Homo sapiens: one gene and its partners. Each later gene encodes a partner of the first gene's protein in a complex. Each region holds a gene or a part of one and is shown on either strand. Other genes may lie near its edges.

Evidence for each region.
Region 2: DRC3 (region 1) and DRC10 share a complex: the UniProt entries of both Homo sapiens proteins name them as parts of the nexin-dynein regulatory complex.
Region 3: DRC3 (region 1) and DRC7 share a complex: the UniProt entries of both Homo sapiens proteins name them as parts of the nexin-dynein regulatory complex.

Annotation. Positions count from the first base shown.
Region 1 is NC_000017.11:18,010,816-18,017,455, reverse strand, and holds the end of DRC3 (dynein regulatory complex subunit 3), read right to left. Parts: intron 2,398-6,640; exon of another isoform or gene 1,393-2,397; coding exon 1,261-1,392; exon of another isoform or gene 1,256-1,260; coding exon of another isoform or gene 1,196-1,255; intron 899-1,195; coding exon 785-898; 3' UTR 567-784; downstream 1-566. UniProt on the Homo sapiens protein: Component of the nexin-dynein regulatory complex (N-DRC) a key regulator of ciliary/flagellar motility which maintains the alignment and integrity of the distal axoneme and regulates microtubule sliding in motile axonemes.
Region 2 is NC_000012.12:113,197,072-113,204,183, forward strand, and holds part of DRC10 (dynein regulatory complex protein 10), read right to left. Parts: intron 3,743-7,112; coding exon 3,509-3,742; intron 542-3,508; coding exon 470-541; intron 1-469. UniProt on the Homo sapiens protein: Component of the nexin-dynein regulatory complex (N-DRC), a key regulator of ciliary/flagellar motility which maintains the alignment and integrity of the distal axoneme and regulates microtubule sliding in motile axonemes.
Region 3 is NC_000016.10:57,725,694-57,732,305, reverse strand, and holds the end of DRC7 (dynein regulatory complex subunit 7), read right to left. Parts: intron 6,239-6,612; coding exon 6,023-6,238; intron 5,475-6,022; coding exon 5,364-5,474; intron 5,008-5,363; coding exon 4,897-5,007; intron 3,917-4,896; coding exon 3,722-3,916; intron 1,376-3,721; coding exon 1,236-1,375; intron 1,142-1,235; coding exon 1,048-1,141; 3' UTR 501-1,047; downstream 1-500. UniProt on the Homo sapiens protein: Component of the nexin-dynein regulatory complex (N-DRC) a key regulator of ciliary/flagellar motility which maintains the alignment and integrity of the distal axoneme and regulates microtubule sliding in motile axonemes.

The DNA of each region.
Region 1 (6,640 bases):
CAGCCTCTCCTCCTGCTTCCCTGCCCCTCAGCACCCAGAGCAGAGAAGGTCTTAGCCCACACCGGCCTCCTTTTGCCTGTGGCTGGCAGCCTGCCTAGGCATGGCAGGGGAAACGGCAGGGGCACGTGTCTGACTTTATGCCACAGCCAAGAATCTAGCTGATGGCAGTGCCCTTGGGAGTTGCTCTGTCAGCTGGCCTGGGACCGGCTGTTCATCTCAAACTCTTTCTCTTGTTCCTACATGAACATTTTTTTTTTTTTTTTTTTTTTTTTTTTTTTTTTTTTGAGACGAAGTCTCGCTCTGTCGCCCAGGCTGGAGTGCAGTGGTGCGATCTTGGCTCACTGCAACCTCCGCCTCCCAGGTTCAAGTGATTCTCCTGCCTCAGCCTCCTGAGTAGCTGGGATTACAGGTGCACGCTACCACATCTGGCTAATTTTTGTATTTTTAGTAGAGACAAGGTTTCACCATGTTGGTCAGGCTGGTCTCGAACTCCTGACCTCGTGATCTGCATGCCTCGGCCTCCCAAAGTGCTGGGATTACAGACGTGAACCACCGCACCCAGCTGATTTTTTTTTTTTTTTTATGAGTAGGGGAAATGTGAAATGAGTCCTTTATTTTCTCTACTTTTGGAAGTTTTTCCAGGGGTGGGGGAAGAATGGTGTTGGGGATCGCGGTTGAGAGATGCCCAGCAACTCTCTAGAGGTGCGGGTGAGGCGTGTGCACTTCCTTCTCCTGGCTGGGGCTGGTGCTATGTTTTGAAGAAGCTCCTGTGGCTGACATTCATCTAGTCTAGGATGTCGCCACATTCCAGGTTGTCCAGTTCGCTCTGCATGTGGTCGATGTACTGATTGATCTCCTTCACGCGCTTGCGGTTCCTCATGATCTCATCCTTGTGAATCTGAGGAGTGAAACCAAAGCCCGATTCCTTACATCAGATCATTGGTTAATATCTTTCACTGAATCCAGTTTGAGGGAAGGGGAAAATAGTTCCTTTAGATCTGCAAACCTCATTTGCTTCAGCGCCTCCCCAGGTTCTGCTGATCTCTGTATATTTGAGGTAGGAATTAGGAAAATGATGAAGCCCATGGGTTTTAAAGTCTCTGGGCAATGTTGTCTTCAGTGTGGAATTCTATAATCCTTAATTTTATTTCTTCCTTCATTTCATTCCTTAATGAAAATTCTATCCACTACCTAGGGAGGATTTCCATGTCAGCTAGAAAAGTTCATCCAGCCTGCTAGGATGGCTTGGGATTGACTCACCCTGTCTATTAAACGTGTACACCAAGAGTTGATTCTGGTCACCAGCTCATCTTCTCGATTGTCAATCTTCAGGAGGTGGATGTCGTGCGATGCCCCGACAGCATTAACAATCGTATCTTTATCGACAAAAAGCTGGTGAGTGAAAAGAATCCAATGAGAAAGTGTGTGTCATTATACCGTGAACACAAAGGGAGCTGAACAGAGAAGGAGCATTTGGAAGTCCCCTGGCTGTGCAGGCCACACTCAGAGCAGAGCCCACCTTTGTATCAGCGCACTCTGCCGATTCATCTGTGAATTCATCTGTGACAGCCGCTTCCCCAACTGCACAGGGCAGGTGTTGTGGGGAAAGGGCCAACCAGGGTGTTACTTTGCAGTCCCCGCTGGAAGCATGTTTCCTCCAGGGTGAAGGCAGATGGCTGCCCAGGGGGCACCTCACCCAGGACATCTGTTCTCACAATGCTTCTCTCTCAATTACTCTCAAGTCTAACTTGCCCAAAACCTCTGCCTGCTGGGTGGAAGCATGAGGCTGGCTGAGGGTCTCGAGGCTGCTCTGAAGACAGCAGGCCCTACAAACTCATGGGTGTTCACCCCACAGTTGTCTCTCCACTGCCACTCATGTCAACAAAACCAAACTTTGGATTCCATTTGGAGTATCCTTCTGCCTTCTCTTGTTCCTGACTTTGCTGTCTTGTAAAAAGTTGTTAGAAACAACCACCTTCTAATAGGCCTCACTGGTTCTAGGTGTTGACACTGTGGCTATTGTTGCCTGGGATGGTTGAAATGGAGTCATTTCCCAGAGCAGGGCAAGGCCACTGAAGCACTCAGTAAGCAGTTGCTTCCACCTTGAAGCAGAGGCGCTTGGTAAGGCAGAGCACCTGAATGCTCTGTATTGCAGGGAGGATTTGCAAGTGGAGTGTGCATTTTTTGTTCTTTCCTGTAGTGGCAGTTAACTTAATGGTCTCTAAAACGTTCTGTGCAATCTTAAGATGTTAATATTTCTGCCAAAAAAAGTATTCTTTGGTCAAATACATTTGGGAAAGCCAGCACATCCTAGGCCCCTCCTAAAGATTTGCTGGGCACAAAGTATTCTGAAGGCTCTACAAAGTCCTGTGGAAAATAAACCCTTTAAGCTTTGTCTCTCTTGGTTTTCCAACTTTTTTGGCTACAGACTTCAGAGTAATGCCTGTTAATGTCTTGTGGGATGCTGATTTTCCACATAATCTCATGTGGGAAAAGCCAGGTTAGCTGATATGTGGAATGGGGTGTCTGGGGGACCAATTAGCACAGTCACAAGGGAGAAATGTCAAGAAATTATTAAGTTCTTTCCATGTGTGTACAAGGTCCCAGGCCAGGCTCTGGGAATGGTTCAAAGGTGTGTAAAGCCTGTTTTCGGTGAGCCTTGGCAGTGTGCTTAGGAGTGGGTGTCCTGGTTATTTTAGAGATAACTACAACCACAGTGTCAACCCATCACGAAAAGGTTCTCATCCTTCATTCTAAAAGGTGGGTCATAGTGGAGCTCTAAGCCAGGCAGAGAAATCATACCCCTCAGAGTTTGAATATGTAGAAAACAGCTTCAAAAGCTGTGAGAAGCAACAGAAACTGAAATCTGCTTAGAAACATACATGATTAGAATTGGTTATGAAAAACTGTGTGACATTTGTAAAATGAAAACAAAAGGAAACTGGGTTTAAGGGAATTGTTTTGAAATGTGAGTTACAAGTTGTTTCTGGACTTTGGGTGGCCTAGAGTGGTGGCTACTTCAATTTTCCCTCTTAGAATAGTTTTTATGGGTAGAATATTCCAGATCCCTCTCCAGTTTCTGCAGGTTGAAAGCACTAGGGTGGAGGCAGGGGCTGTGCAAACAGGTATTCCTGAGTCTTTTTTGAGCTGTTGCCCTGCTCTGTGGTCCTTGTGGCTGTAAAGACACATTTCTTTCAAAGCAACTTCTTTGTTTAAACACGTTGGCACTGGCCGGGCACGGTGTCACATGCCTGTAATCTCAGCACTTTGGGAGGCCAAGGCGGGAAGGTGGGTGGATCACCTCAGTCAGGAGTTCAAGACCAGCCTGGCCAATATGGTGAATAAAAATACAAAAATTAGCTGGGCATGGTGGCGGGTGCCTGTAATCCCATCTACTTGGAAGGCTAAGGCAGGAGGATAGCTTGAACCTGGGAGGCCGAGGTTGCAGTGAGCCAAGATTGCACCACTGCACTACAGCCTGGGCAACAACAGTGAAACTCCACCTCAAAAAAAAAAAAAAAAATTGGCATTAAAAAAATTGACAAATAACTGTACATATTGATGGGGTACATAGTGATGTTTCAACACCTATCATGTATAGTGATCAGATCAGGGTATTAGCATATCCGTCTCAAACATTTATCATTTCTTTGTGTTGAGAACATTCAATATCCTCCTTTTAGCTATTTGAAACTATATTATTGTCAACTATAGTCATCCCATAGTGGTATAGAACACTAGAACTTATTCCCCCTATCTAGCTGTAATTTGGTATATCCTTTAACAAATCTCTCCCTATTCCTCCATCTCTCTACCCTTCCCAGTCTCTAGAAGCCTCTGTTCTTGTTTTTACTTCTATGAGATCAACTTTTTTAGCTTCGGCATATGAGTGAGAACATGAGGTGTTTAACTTTCTGTTCCTGGCTTATTTCACTTAACATAATGTCCTCCAGTTCCATCCATGTTGCCATGGATTTCATTCTTTTTTTATGGCTGAATAGTATTCCATTGTGTATAGGTACCACATTTTCTTTATCCAGTCATCTGTTGTTGGACACCTAGGTTGATTCTGTATCTTGTTATTGCGAACAGTGCTGCAGTAAACATGGGTGCAGATATGTTTTCAATATAGTGATTTCCTTTCCTTTAGACAAATGCTCAGTAGTGAGATTGCTGGATCATATGATAGTTCTGTTTGTAGTTTTTGAGGGCCCTCCACAATGTTCTTCCTAGTGGCTGTCCTAGTTTACATTCTTACTTACAGTATATGAGTTCCTTTTTCTTTGCATCCTCACCAGCATTTGTTATTTTTTGTCTTTTTGATAATTATCATCCTAAGTGGGGTGAGATGATGCCTCATTCTGGTTCTTATTTGCATTTCCCTGATAACTAGTGATGCTGAAAAGTTTTTAATGTATTTGTTGGCCATTTGTATGTCTTCTTTTGAGAAACATCTGTTCAGATGTTTTTAATTGAATTGTTTGTTTTTTTGCTATTGAGATGTTAGAGTTCATTGTATATTCTGGATATTAATACCCTGTCAGATAAGTAGTTTGCAAATATTTTGTCACATTGTGTAGGGTGTCTTTTCACTCTGTTGTTTCATTTGCTGTGCAGAAGATTTATAGTTTGATATATTCCATTTATTTTTGCTTTTGTTGTCTGTGCTTTTGAGGTCTTATTCATAAAATTTTTTCCCAGGCCAATGTCCTAAAGCATTTCTCTTGTTTTCTTCTGGTCATTTTATAGTTTCAGGTCTTTTTTTTTTTCTTCTGAGACAAAGTCTGGCTCTATTGCTCAGGCTGGAGTGCAGTGGTGCAATTTCAGCTCACTACAACCTCCACCTCCTGGGCTCAAGCCATCCTCCCACCTCAGCATCCTGAGTAGCTGGGACTATAGGCAGGTACCACCATGCCCAGCTAATTTTTGTATTTTTTATAGAGAGGTGGGTCTTTGCCATGTTGCCCAGGCTGGTCTCCAACTCATGAGCTCCAGCGACCTGTCTGTCTCAGGCTCCCAAAGTGCTGGGATTACAGGCATGAGCCACTGCGCCCTGCCAGTTTCAGGTCTTACATGTAGGTCTTAGATCCATTTTTAGTTGATTTTTGTATAGAGTGAGAGATGGGAATCTAGTTTCATTCTTCTGCATATGGATATCCAGTTTTCCCAGCAAAATCTATTGAAGAGACTGTCTTTTCCCCAGTGAGTGTTCTTGGCGCTTTTGTCAAAAATCAGTTGGCTGTAAATATATAGATTAATTTCTGAGTTCTCTATTCTGTTTCATTGGTTTATGTATCTGTGTTTTTGTTTGTTTTAAACAGGCTTAATTCACTTTATTTTTCTTATATAAAAACCCTGTGTTACTTTGGGAAGCCAAGGTGGGCGGATCACTTGAGGTCAGGAGTTTGAGACCAGCCTGGCCGGCCAACATTGGTAAAACCCCATCTCTACTAAAAATACAAAAAATTAACCAGGCATGGTGGTGTGCGCTTGTAGTCCCAGGTACTCGGGAGGCTGAGGTAGGAGGATCATGTGAACCCAGGTGGTGGAGGTTGCAGTGAGCCAGGACTGCACCACTGCACTCCAGCCTGGGCGATAGAGCAAGGCTCCATCTCAAAACAAAACCCTGTGTTGTAGCCACAGCTGAAGCCTGAGTCCTCCACACAGAGACTCTGGTGTGGGTCTTGACAAGATGGTCAGTGAATTACTGAGAGGAAGACTTGGTGAACACAGTCTCCTCCCAGAGGTCAGGGGGCAGGTAGCTATAGGTCTTGGAGATGGCATCAAAGGTGGCCTTGGCAAAGTTGCCCAGGGTGGCACTGCAGCTCCTGGCTGAGGTGTAGCAGTTGTCAATACTGGACATCAGCAGCATCTTCTTGGGCACAGAGGCCAAGAGGATGCCAGTGCCCCTGGGTGCAGGAATAAGGTGCAGCAGCACAGAGCCGCAGCAGCCTGTCATCTTGCAAGGGACAGTGTGGGGCTTGCAATCTTGGTCCCCCAGTGGCCTCTGCACGGGGACAGTAGAGAGCTTGGTCAGGACAGTGATCCCTCTGACAGCAGTGGCTGCTTCCTTGGAGCACTTAACACCCAGAGTGACACGGCCATTGTAATCCCTGATGGCAACAAACGCCTTGAACCTGCTGCGCTGGCTGGGGCAGGTCTGCTTCTGCACTGGCATAATCTTTAAAACCTCATCCTAGGCCTGGCGTGGCGGCTCACGCCTGTAATCCCAGCACTTTGGGAGGCTGAGGCGGGCAGATTACCTGAGGTCAGGAGTTTGAGACCAGCCTGACCAACATGGAGAAACCCCATCTCTACTAAAAATACAAAATTAGCTGGGCATGGTGGCGCATGCCTGTAATCCCAGCTACTCGGGAGGCTGAGGCAGGAGAATCACTTGAACCTGGGAGGTGGAGATTGTCGTGAGCCAAGATCATGCCATTGCACTCCAGCCTGGGCAAAAAAGCAAAATTCCGTCTCAAAAACAAACAAACAAACAAACAAACAAAAAAAAAACCTCATCCTTGAGAGAGGCCCCCAGGAAAAAGTCAATGATCTCAGACTACTTGATGGGCGGGGAGAAGAGATAGATCTCTTCCAGGGACTTGATCTTCATGTCCTTGACCAGGCAGCCCAGCTT
Region 2 (7,112 bases), on another chromosome or scaffold:
GCCCCACCTTGTAGGGGTGCTGGCAGGAGCCCATCCAGAGGAGTATGGGATGTGGACACTAGATGGAGCCATGATCATTAGGCCCAGTGTCAGAGTGTCAGGCCCTTCTAGCCAGTCGCTTTTTTTTTTTTTTTTTTTTTAAATTAATAGAGATGGAGTCTTGCTCTGTTGCCCAGGCCGGTCTTGAATTACTGAGCTCAAGCGATCCTCCCACCTCAGCCTCCCAACGTGCTGGGATTACAGGCATGAGCCACAGCACCTGGCCTTGCAGCTTCTGGCTCTTTTCTTTCCCACCTCTCACTCTGCCCCAGGCTGGACAAACCCTTTAAACAAAGGGAAGTGCTCCCTGCAGAGAGGCTCAGAAGTTTGCCCACTCCATGGACCATCCCAAGGCTACTTTTCCCATTCATCCCATTCCTAGAAGGTCTTGGGAAAAGCATGCGAGAGAGACTTATTCAGCGACAAATACCTGCTTCTCACCCATCTCTGTATCATATTTCTGGATCCAGTTCTCGATTTCCGTTTCCACTTTATATTTCTTCTAGAAAAGATCCAATTTGTCATTGTTTGATGGAATATATTAACAATCAACAGCACTGAGCACTCTCTGCATCACTAGGCTCTGGCAGGTGCTTGACATGCCTCGCCTATTGAACAAGGAGGTTCCCTTTTCTCCATTTCACAGGGGAGAGAACTGAGGCTCAGACATGCTATCTTACTTGCCCAAGGTGACAGAGCTAATGGGTGGCAGAGCCTGAATTTGATGCCAGCAGCCTGGTTCCAGGACATCCTAGGCAGAGAAAGCAGCAGGTGCAAAGGCCCTGAGGTAGGAACAAGCTTGTGCTGTTTAAAGGACAGAAATCAGCCTGGCGTGGTGGCTTACGCCTGTAATCCCAGCGCTTTGGGAGGCTGAGGCAGGCGGGTCACTTGAGGCCAGGAGTTTGAGACCAGCCTGGCCAACATGCCAAAACCCCATCTCTACTAAAGATACAAAAATTAGCCAGGCATGGTGATGCACACCTGTAATCTCAGCTACTCAGGAGGCTGAGGCAGGAGAATCACTTGAACCCAGGAGGCAGAGTTTGCAGTGAGCTGAGATCATGCCACCACACTCCAGCCTGGGTGACAGAGCAAGACTGTCTCAAAAAATAAAAATTAAAAAAAAAATTAAAGGACAGAAATCAAGCCAGTGTGACTGGAAGGGAGTGGCGAGGAGGAAAGTGGTCCCCAACAAGGTCCAAGGAAAAGGCTGTGTCACAGAGGGAGTGTCAGCAAGAGGAGGCTGTATTCTCAGGAAAGGGTGAGGTGAAGCCACTGGGTGATTTAGATGCAGTGGAGGGACATGATCTAATCTTGTTTTTAAAAGATTATTTCCACCATAAAAAGCAGTGAAGCACTGATCCATGCTACAACATGGGTGAACCTTGAAAACACAGTGCTAAGTAAAACATGCCAGACACAACGGCCACAGAAGATTCCATTCATATGAAGTGTCTAGAATAGGTGAATCCACAGAGACAGAAAGCACATTAGTGATTGCCAGGGACAGGGGGAATAAGGGAATGGGGAGTAACTTCTTAATGGATATGGAGTTTTATTTTGAGGTGATAATGTTTTGGAACTAGATAGAAGTGGTGGAAGTGGGGGTGGCACAACATCGTGAATATACTAAATGCCACTGAATTGCTCATTTTAAAATGGTTTTATGTTATGTAAGTTTCACCTAAATTAAAAATAAGCAGGCTGGGCCAGTGGCTCATCCCAACCATTTGGGAGGCCACGGTGGGAATGGGAGAATTGCTTGAGGCCACAAGTTCTAGATCAGCCTGGGCAACAGAGCAAAACCCTGTCTCCACAAAAAATGATACTTTTTTTTTTTCTTTTGAGATGGAGTTTCGCTCTGTCACCCAGGCTGGAGTGCAGTGGTGTGATCTCGGTTCACCGCAACCCCCGCCTCCTGAGTTCAAGCAATTCTCATGCCTCAGCCTCCCAAGTAGCTGGGATTACAGGTGCATGCCACCACGCCCGGCTAATTTTGTATTTTTAGTAGAGACAGGGTTTCACCACATTGGCCAGGCTGGTCTCGAACTCCTGACCTCAGGAGATCCGTCTGCCTCAGCCTCCCAAAGTGCTGGGATTACAGGCGTGAGCCACTGCTCCCAGCCAATAATAATAATTTGTAATTAGCCAGACGTGGTGACATGCCCCAGCGACCCATGAGGGCTGAGATGGGAGGATCACTTGAGCCCAGGAGTTGGAGGCTGAAGTGAGCTATGATCACGCCACTGCACTCTGGCATGGGTGACAGAGTGAGACCCTGTCTCAAACATAAATAAATAAATAAATAAATAAATAAACCCCCTAATCCTACAGAGCAAGAGCCCTTAGCTTGGGCACCATGGGTAGGCCGGCTTCAGGGGGACTGGGCTCCCCAGGGAACTGTCCACTAGGATGTGTAAGTGCATCTGTGCCTTCTTTCTGGGGGAGAGGCCCGTGGCTTCCATCAGATGCTCAAGAGTGTGACACTAAGAGACTGGAGACAAGTATTAAAAAGGGTGCCTTTTACAAGGAAAGAGATTTGGAAGTTGGGTGTGTGCTAGGCCTGGGTCTTGGCTGAGATGATGAAGGAGAAGGCAAATGAAGGTTTTGGGTTTTTTTTTTTAAGAGGCAAGGTTTCACTCTGTTGACCTGGCTGGAATGCAGTGGCACAGTTATAGTTCACTGCAGCCTCCAAACTCCTGGGCTAAAGTGATCCTCCTGCCTCAGCCTCCCAAGTAGCTGGGACTATAGGCACACATCACAGCGCCTGACTAATTTATCTTTTATTCTTTGTACAGACAGGGTCTTGCTGTTGCCCAGGCTGGAGTGCAGTGGTGCAATCACAGCTCACTGCAGCCTCCGCCTCCTGGGTTCAAGCGATCCTCCCACCTCAGCCTCCCAAAGTGTTGGGATTACAGGCATGAGCCACCTTACCCGGTCAGAAATGATATTTATTGAACACTTACTATGCACCAGCTCTCTCACTACCATCTCATGTAATTCTCATGTAACAACCATTAAGACCAATGTTAGCATTTTCATTTCTGAGGTGTGAAATCGGCAGCTGGGCAGGAGTTGAGTAATTAGCCTGAGCTTTACATGCTACTTCTTCATTCCTTTGCAGGGCACCCAGCCTCTGACGATGTGGGTATTATCCCTGTGGGGTCTCAGGAGTTGAGGAACTTGCCCAAGGTCACAAAGCTGGCATGCAGCAATGCTGGGACAGGATCCCAGTTTGTCCCCTGTCCCCAGGCCTGTGTGCTGCCCCTTCCTGCCTCCCAGGAGACACTGGCTTGGATTTGGGCCTTCCCTGCTCCTGTGCCCTTCCCCTCCACCAAGCCACTTCCTGAGTAGCTGGTGCAGTCCTGCCCTGCCCAACACTGCTGGACCTCCAGGAGTGATGGAACAGTCCCACCCATCCCCCCCACCAGGGGCCCCCTCGGCCCATCCTCGCTGCTTCCCGGGGCACCTTCCTCAGCGCCTGCTCTGCCTCCCGGTTCTCCATGACCAGGTTGTAAAACTGTGACTGCAGCTGCAGGATCTCCTGCTGGATCTTGGCCACCCTGGCCTGTGATGCCCGGAAATCGGCCTTCTGCTGCTTCTCAGCCTCCTGCTTAGTGCGAACGAGGCTGTTCTCTGAGAACTTGAGCACCTGGTGCAGGTGGTTTTTCAGTTCTTGGATCACAAAGTTCTCCTTTTCCACCTAAGCCAGGAAGAGAAAGGGCTCCGTTAATACCTCCATGCCCAGCCGGGCACAGTGGCTCACGCCTGTAATCCCAACACTTAGGGAGGCTGAGGTGGGTGGGTCACCTGAGGTCAGGAGTTTGAGACCAGCCTGGCTAACATGATGAAATCCCGTCTCTTCTAAAAATACAAAAATTAGCTGGGTGTGGTGGTGCATGCCTGTAATCCCAGCTACTCGGGAGGCTGAGGCAGGAGAATCACTTGAATACAGGAAGTAGAGATTGCAGTGAGCGGAGATATCATACCACTGCACTTTTACTTGGGTGACAGAGTGAGATTCCATCTCAAAAAAAAAAGCAACTCTCCATATCCACTGACAGTCACCAGAGGCTGGCACCACTGCATCCTCCCTCAGGGCCAGGCATGCCACCTGGGTTATATCTCTCTAATCACACCCCCAACCCCACAATGGAGGTCAGGGACAGCCTGATTACAGACAAGACAACTGAGGCTCAAGGAGGTGGCTTCATCTGTCTGGGGTTGCCCAGCTGAACTGGGGCCTGAAGCCAGGTTTGTCTGACCTTGAGCCCACGTTCTTGGCCACCACTTTCTATTTCCTTGCACGAGTGAAGGGTACAAGCTTGTTGGATTGAGGCCACAGGGGAGGACTGGGACAGCGGCGATGCTCCTCCTGGGGACACAGCAGGGGAGGCCCAGCTGGCAGAGACACTTAGTGGGGTGCATGAAGGTGTGCGATGAACACAGGCTGCAGGGATTGCCACCGGGCTCTTTCTTGAGGGCCCATGTCTGGCTTGTCCCCTGCCTTGGGTGGATTCTAGAACAGGAATGGGGGTGGAGGATGAGACAGTTTTGTAAAGAAGCTCTCAAGGCTTCTCACTACACTAGAGTCTCCCTCTGAGCACAGCGGTGCTATGGCTGCTCACGCCACCATCTTGGGCTTGGGTCAGCTGGCAGCAGGCCCGCCGGGCATCTGCTCACTTCCTGCACACTGGGGGCAGGGAGGCAGTGCCTTTGGGGCAAGCCCATCCTGCAGGCAAGGCTTTAGGCACCAGGCGCTGGGAATATGATCGGCAGTCAGAGCTCTCCCTGTAGACTCCCCACACGTGCCTGATTGGTGTCTCCCCTCACTGTACACTGAGGTTCAATGACATGAAATTTGCCCACCTGGCAAAAATGGCATTTGAGCCCAGGTCAGTCCAAGGTGAAGCCCCAAGCTGGTTCTAGCACCTGAATGAGACCAGCAGGGCCACCTGTGTCCCTCTGCCTATTCCTAGATGATGCCCCTCCCACCTTACTAGTAACCTCCCTGCCCGAGGGCTCAGCAGCTGGTCCTCTGTCCACTCAACAAGTATACATCATGCCCCTCTTTTGGACAGGCTCACTGGGGACACAGTGGCAGGCTGAAAGAGACAAGGTCCCCCTTTTCTTGTGGAGGAGCCAGACCCCTCAAGACCACACAAATCACACACACATATGTTATCCACAAAGTCAGGTGAATGTTATCCACAAAGTCAGGTGAATGCTTTAAAGGACAAATTCAGTGAGAAGTGCCCAACCCAGCACCAGGGAGGGGGCTGTGAATAGTTTCCCAGGGCCTTGAACCTTTCATCAGTGGTGGGGGATAGAAACAGAAGGGCCTGTGGCAGTGCAGCCTGGCTACCCCCATGTCTGCTCTCCCCAGAGAGGCTGTGGGGTAGAATGTGGAGCATAACACAGCCCCAGTGACGGGTGGTCGGTCCTTCCTAGCACTTCTCTCTGCTGGGTGTGGCTACAAGATATGCATGGAAGTTCTGTGTGCCACCTCCACACGTGTCCTTAAGGGGCAGAACCAAGCCCTCTCCTCCCCTTTCCTCCTTCCTGCTGGCTAGACTGGGGGCCACATGATGGGGAAAGCTGGAGCAGCCATCTTGGCCCACAAGCAGAAGTCCCATGTTGGGGACAGCAGGGAAGTCACATAGAAGAAACCAGACCTCTGACAAGTTGGGGAGCAGAGATGCCACACCAGCTCCGGTGTTTCCACTACAGAGAAATACACTGCCATCTTGACTAAGCCACAGCTATTTTGGGTGTCTCTGTTATAGCAGCCAAATCTGTACTCATACACCATCTCACAGGGTTTTTGTAAAGATTTAGAGAGAAAATGTATGTTAAACTAAATACACTGTATGTGTGCAATATGACAATTATTATTAGGGTTTGGGATCATGCTACTGTTTCCCTTTTTTTTTTGAGACAGGGTCTTGCTCTGCAGCCAGGCTGGAGTACAGTGGTGCGATCTCAGCTCCCTGCAACCTCTGCCTTCTGGGCGCAAGTGATCCTCCCACCTCAGCTTCCTGAGTAGCTGGGACTACAGGTGCATACCACCACGCCCAGCTAATTTTGTCTTTTACGTAGAGACAGGGTTTTGCCGTGTTGCCCAGGCTGGTCTCAAACTCCTGAGCTCAAGTGATCCACCTGCCTTGGCCTCCCAAAGTGTTGGGATTACAGGCGTGAGCCACCACACCGCCATTTCCCTTCTTAACAATTCTTCTAACTGGTGTGGTATGCCTATAATCCTAGCTACTCAGGAGGCTGAGGCTGGAGGATCCCTTGAAGCTAGGAGTTTAAGACCAGCCTGGGTAACAGAGTAAGACCCCTCCCCTCCCCTCCCCACCCCTTCCCTTCCCTTCCCTTTCATTGAGACAGAGTCTCACTCTGTCGCACAGGCTGGAGTATGATGGTGCAATCTAGGCTCACTGCAATCTCCACTTCCTGGGTTCAAGCAATTCTTGTGCCTCAGCCTCCCGAGTAGCTGAGATTATAGGTGCACGCCACCACACCCAGCTAATTTTTATATTATGAGTAGAGATGGGGTTTCACCATGTTGGTCAGGCTGGTCTCGAACTCCTGACCTTAGGTGATCTGCCTGCCTCAGCCTCCCAAAGTGCTGGGATTACAGGCATGAGCCACTGTGCCCAGCTAATTTTTTTTTTTTTTTTTTTTTTTTTGTAGAGATGGGGTTTCACCCTGTTGCCCAGGCTGGTCTTGAACTCTTGACCTCAAGTGATCCATCTGCCTTGGCTTCCCAAAGTGCTGGGATTATAGGTGTGAGCCACTACTTCCAGCCAGACACCCCATCTCTAAAAAAAGAAAAAAAATTAATTAGGCAGGCATGGTGGCATGTGCCTGTAGTCACAGCTACTTGGGAGGCTGAGGCAGGGAGATTGCTTGAGCCCAGGAGTTCGAAACCAGCCTGGGCAACATAGCGAGACCCTGTCTCTACAAAAATGTAAAAAATTAGCCAAGAGTGGTGGCGCATGCCTGTAGTTTCAGCTACTCAAAAGGCTAAGGCAGGAGAATCGCCCAGGAGGTCAAGGCCGCAGTGAGCT
Region 3 (6,612 bases), on another chromosome or scaffold:
GGCTATTTGGGAGTTCCAGTTGTTTCTCATCGTCACCAGTACTTTTTATTTTTTTCATACCGGAGGGTGTTGTGACATTTCATTTGCCAGATGACTCATGAATTTGACAACCATTTCATGTGTTTTTTGGCTATTTTGTAAGCTAACATTTAATGACTGCTTTCTATGTGCCATTCCCAGCCTCCCTGCTTTATAATTTATGTCTTTTTTTTCTTTTTTTTGAGACAGGGTTTTGCTCTGTTGCTTAGGCTGAAGTGCAGTGGTGCAATCATGGCTCACTGCAGCCTTGACTTCCTAGGTGAAAGTGATCCTCCTACCTCAGCCTCCTGAGTAGCTGGGACTACAGGCTCATGCCACCATGCCTGGCTCTTTGTTTTTTTTTTTTTTTAGAGATGGGGTCTTATTATGTTGCCCAGGCTGGTCTCAAACTCCTGGGATCAAGTGATCCTCCTGCCTCAGCCTCCCTAAATGTTGGGATTACAGGTGTGAGCCACCACACCTGGCCATAAGTCTTATTTAATGCAACAATGCTACCCCATTCCACAGATGGGTAAGTGGTATCTGGTAAGAGGAGGAGCTGGGATTCAGTCCTCAAATTCTGGGGCATGCATCTTAGCCTTCCCCATCCCACTTGGTGAGGTGGGCCACCCTAGTCACATTGAGATATAACCAGTTGTTTGCAGATGGCTGTGGGACCATCTGCAGAGGTGCTGTGAAGACCTGACATTCCAACGGAGAGAAGGACAGGAAGCAAACGACAGGCCAAGGGGAGGAAGGGGGTGGTCCCAGGCTATAGATAACAGAAGAAGAGAAAGGCTGCTGCTGGAGCTTGTGAAGCGCAAGGCACAAATGGCAAATTAAGAGTGTGTTTATTTACAGGAAAATCATGAGAAGCAGGAACAAACAGGGCTGTAGGGGAGGTGGGCTGGCAGTGAGGCCAGGTGTCTGTGTAAACAGGCATTGGCTGGATAGAGGGAACACAGGAGCCAGGCTGCGGGAAGAGGTTTCCTTTCTCTGGCAGCTCTGGCTGAGGCCCCAGGAGGGACATCAAGCGAATATTTTCTGGAGCTCCCCCAGGCGTGGGTCCTTGTAGAGCTTTTCCTCCAGAGCCAGGTACTTCAGTGGGGCCAGTTCCTTGTGTCTGAAGTCAGAGAGGCAAGGAAAGAGGGTGAGGGGTTACAAAGCTGGTGGTCCAGCCTCCCAGTGGGTTCTCTCCACCTGCCCTGCCTGCTCACCGATTGAGGCGCTGCTCCAGGATGCGGATGCGGAACATGGCCTGAGAGCAGTAACTCAGGTACAGGTCTTCATCCTCGGGTGTCAGCGTCACCTGGTTCTCCTGGTACCACTGCTGCTTCTTTTGCAGCTCCTGGGTCTCCTGTGGTCATAGGGCAGACAGAGAAGGAGGACTGACAAGGCTGACCTTCACCCAGGCTGCAGGCTGCAATCCCATGGGTCACTAGACAGCACCATGACGGTTGGCCCCAGTGTCCCCACTCACACAAGCCACCTATCCATACCTGCCACAGAGGCAGGGGCCACAAAATATCTTGGGTGGGAGCCAGTGGGGTCATGTTTATAGGGATGTCATGTCCATGAGATCAGAACGGGGCAAGACTGAGAGAGCCATGTAGCTCTGGACAAGTTACTGGCATTTTCAGAACCTGCAATTTCTTGTCTACAAAAGGAGGGTCATTGTACTCCCCCCTCCCCTTGTAGAGCTCCTTGTGAAGATTAAGTGACATAATCTTAGTAGTGCACGGGAACTACATGGTGTGTGCCTGACCAACAAAAATGGGTCAAGGACTAGGAGTTGTTACAGTGTACCATCTCTCTGTCTACCCAGCCATCTGCCCATCTATTCCTCTGCCCATCCCTCCACCCATCCCTGCCCATCCATCCGTCCATCCGTCCTTCCACTCATCCATCCAACCGTCCATCTATCCACTCGCCCATCCAACCGTCCATCTATCCACTCGCCCATCCATCCATCCATCCATCCACCCACCCACCCATCCACCCACCCACTCATCCATCCACCCACCTACTCACTCACTCATCCACCCATCCATTCATCCATCCATCCATCCACCCATCCATCCATTCATCCATCCACTCACCCACTCTTCCATCCACCCACCTACTCATCCATCCATCCATCCATCCACCCACCCACCCACTCATCCATCCACCCACCCGCTCACTCACTCATCCACCCACCCACTCACCCATCCATCCATCATCCATCCATCCATCCATCCGTCCATCCGTCCTTCCACTCATCCATCCAACTGTCCATCTATCCACTCGCCCATCCAACCGTCCATCTATCCACTCGCCCATCCATCCATCCATCCACCCACCCACCCATCCACCCACCCACTCATCCATCCACCCACCTACTCACTCACTCATCCACCCATCCATTCATCCATCCATCCATCCACCCATCCATCCATTCGTCCATCCACCCACCCACTCGTCCATCCACCCACCTACTCACTCATCCATCCATCCACCCATCCACCCACCCACCCACTCATCCATCCACCCACCTGCTCACTCACTCATCCACCCACCCACTCACCCATCCATCCATCATCCATCCATCCATCCATCCATCCACCCACCCACCCATCCATTCATCCATCCACCCACCCACCCCATCCACCCACTCATCCATCCACCCACCCACTCACTCACCCATCCATCCATCCACCCACCCACTCATCCATCCACCCACCCACTCATCCATCCACCCACCCACTCACTCACCCATCCATCCATCCATCCACCCACCCACTCATCCATCCACCCACCCACTCATCCATCCACCCACCCACTCACTCATCCACCCACCCATCCATCCATCTATCCACCCATCCATCCATTCATCCATCCACCCGCCCACTCATCCATCCACTCACCCATTCATCCATCTGCCCACTCACTCACTCACTCATCCACCCATCCATCCATCCACCCACTCATCCATCCATCCACCCACTCACTCATCCATTCATCCATCCACCCATCCATCCATTCACCCATCTACCCACCCACTCATCTATCCACCCACCCACCCACTCATCCATTCATCCATCCACCCATCCATCCATTCATCCATCTACCCACCCACTCATCCATTCATCCATCCACCCATCCATCCATTCATCCATCTACCCACCCACTCATCCATCCACCCACTCATCCATCCACCTACCCACTCATCCATCCACTCACTCACTCACCCACCCACCCATCCATCCACCCACCTATCCATACCTATACCCATACACCTATCTATCTACTCACCCATCCATTCATCCTCCCATCCATCTATCCATCCATTTATCCACCCATCCACCCACCCATCTGTTCATGCACCCACCCATCCCTCTATCTACCCATCAATCCACCCACCCATCTATCTATTCATCCATCTACCCATGCATTCATCCACCCATCTATCCATCCATCCATCCACCCACCCACCCACCCACCTATCCATACCTACATCCATCCATCCCCCTATCGATTCATCTATCCGATAAACAAGTGTGAGGAGGAACAACTCAGTCATTTGGAAACCCCAAGCATTGACATATTCATCCCGTCATCAGGCCCTCACAAGCCTGTGAGGTAGTGGGCGGACAGCCGTGGGCCCATTTCCTGGATGCAGATGCTGAGATCCCCCCCTCCCCAACAAAGGCCCTGGTGGCACCTTCTCAAAGCGGGCCTGGATGAGGTTGGCCTTGTTGATGAGCCGCTGCTTGAAGTCGCTGAGGCACTCATCCTTGAGGCGCACCGCCTGCCAGCATGTTAGTTTCTCTCCTGGCGGGAGCTGGGCCAGGAATGGGGCCAGGTAGTCCAGCTGGGTCTCCACCTGCCGCAGGTGCTCTTCGTGCATCATGCGCTCCTGTAAAGGTGAGGGGCAGATAGCTGGATCAGCAGGAACTACAGAGACCTCTCCACCAGCTCTGCATCAGCAGTGTGCCAGCACAAAGCCAGACCTCACAGCCAGGTTCCAGTGCATGGCGCCTCCAAGATGGGCCTTAGAAGGGCCCACATGCTGGTCTCTGGACCTGTGTTTACTGGTGACAGCCAACTCTTTTTTTCTTACATGAATTTGTATCTCACTACCTGAGCTTTGGTTTCCTTCTCTGAGGATCTGAGGATCTGACAGGATCATGTCTGTAAAGCACGCAGCCTGATGCCTGACAATCCATAGTAGATGCTTATTCAGTCAACGGTAGTGGTTATTAACGATGTTAGTTAAAAACTGCCAGTAACTCCCTTCACTTTTCTTTTCCACCCTGGGGCCTGTGTCCTCCATCTGCAGACAGGGGGCAGTGAAGTTGGAGACGTGGGGGCTGACACCCTCCCCTGGGATCTGAGAACAGTCATCTGATGCCCATCCTGCCTCACGACCCCCAAACTAAAATCTCAACTTGGTTGGTGAAAGGGATTCAGAAGCCGGCCCTGAAAACCAGGCGGGGCCTTGCAACCTGAAGGTGTAACCTGAATGCCCTCCCTGTGCTGGAGAGCAGGAGAGCTCAGGCCTGGAGCCAGAGGTAGCTCACTGGGGCCACTGGCCCAGGGTGCAACCTCAGTGGGAGCCCTGAGTAGAGGTGGGCACATAATTTTAATTCTTTTCCCAACCACAGGCCTTGGCTTGGCTACAGCCCCTGGGGATGGGGGGAAACCTTGCCCAAATCCCAAGTACTCTTTGGGATGAACCATAGAAATGGTCAGTTCAGCAGCAAGGATGACCGCATGGTATCAATAACCGTATCCCCCACAGAGGGTTTCTCAGCAGAATCCCTCATGGTCCCCACCACCCTGGAGACCAGGGGGGTCTAGGAAAAGCTGGGGCCTGGAGAAGGGATTGGGACTGACCATGGCCTCCCGATATTCCTTGCTCTTCTCATTCCGCTTGGTGTCATAGATGGAGATGGTCAGTGTGTGCGCCGCCTCCTCTTCCTCTCGAAGCTTCAGAATCTCCAGCACCTGAAATGAGAAGTGTTGGAGGGCGTGATGGAGACACCCCTCCTCCACTCCTGTAACCCCAGCACTTTGGGAAGCCAAGGAGGGCAGATTGCATGAATTCAGGAGTTTGAGACCAGCCTGGGCAAAATGGAAAAACCCCATCTGTTAAAAAACAAAAACAAAAACAAGAAATTAGCCAGGCATGGTGGTGTGCGCTAGTGGTCCCAGTTACCTGGGAGGATGAGGTGGGAGGACCACCTGAGCCCGGGATGTAGAGCCATAATTGCGCCACTGCATTCCAGCCTGGGTTATAGAGCGAGACCCTATCTCAAAAACAAAGATACCGCCCACCTGCTCACTCTCCCACAGGACCCTACCTCCAGCTCTGACTCCCAGACCTGATGTCTGGACAGCTTCTCCTCCCTCTTCAGGTGCATCATGGCCTCGTACTGGTAGAGCAGCTTCTTGGTGTGCTCCATGGGCTCCACCTGGGACAACAACCACCTTAGTAACACAGAGAGGCTGCCATGATCGGGGCATAGGACCACCTGGGTTCAAATCTACCCCTGCCACTTTCCAGCTGTGTGACCTCGAGCAAGTTGCTAAACCTCTCTGAGCCTTAATTTTCTCACTTATAAAAATACAGATAATAATAAAAGAGGAACTGAAGACTCAGAAAAGCTGGGGACTGTGCCGGGAGAGTGAGCGTTTGACTAGGAAAGCTAGCCCCTCAGAGGTAGTGAGACTCTTCCCCTCCCACAGAGCCTCCCTAGGATCTGAGGTTTGCCCTGACCAGGACTGCAGAGTCGTCTTAGCCTGCTGAGTTCGCTTTTTTGGTGGAAAAGGAAGATTTTCAGAGGAGCTCAAAGAGAAGGGTCCCCAGATGGGAACTTTTGGTTTTCCCAAAGAGCAAAGATGAATTTCCTCGCCGGGATTCACCAGCGCCCATCCTGGTTCTCCCAAGTGGCTGGAATAAGACAGAGAGCCCCGGTTCCTCCTGCAGCCGACCCCTGCCCGCCGTGGCCCCCAGGCCCACCTCGAAGCTGATGCACATGTCGGGCGTCATGATGATCTTGTTGCCTTTGCTGTCCACCTCGGTGCGCCGCAGGAACTCGCGCTTGGAGGCCGTGATGTGGTCCTCACGGCAGTGGTAGCGCAGCTGGATGCGCTCCTCCGCGACCAGAAACACGCGCTCTGCCACGTCCTCCTCCGCGGGCTTCGCTGGGTTGCGGAAGAACCGCTCTGTGATTTTCTGGGAGGCCAGAACATGCAAAGGATGAGCAAAGGATGAGCGTGTGAGAGGAGATTTCTGTGCATGCCCGCAGGCAGGAGCAACGAACGTTCAGGACACTGGAGTCTGGGGTCGTTTGGCGATTCACGTGGAATAGCCCCTCCTAGCCAGACAATGGATTTCGTGGGTTCTCAGGGCCAGGCCACTCCACTCCCATATGGTGCTGGGCCCCTCCTCAGCTCCTTCAAGACTCTGCTTGCCTACCTCAAGAGATGGGGAGCTCACCACCTCTCCAGGCAGCCTACTCCATTGCTAGACATCCCTTACTGCTAGAAAGAGCTTCTTTGGCATGCTGCCATTACACACAGTTGCCAACTAATTTGTAATGACATGAA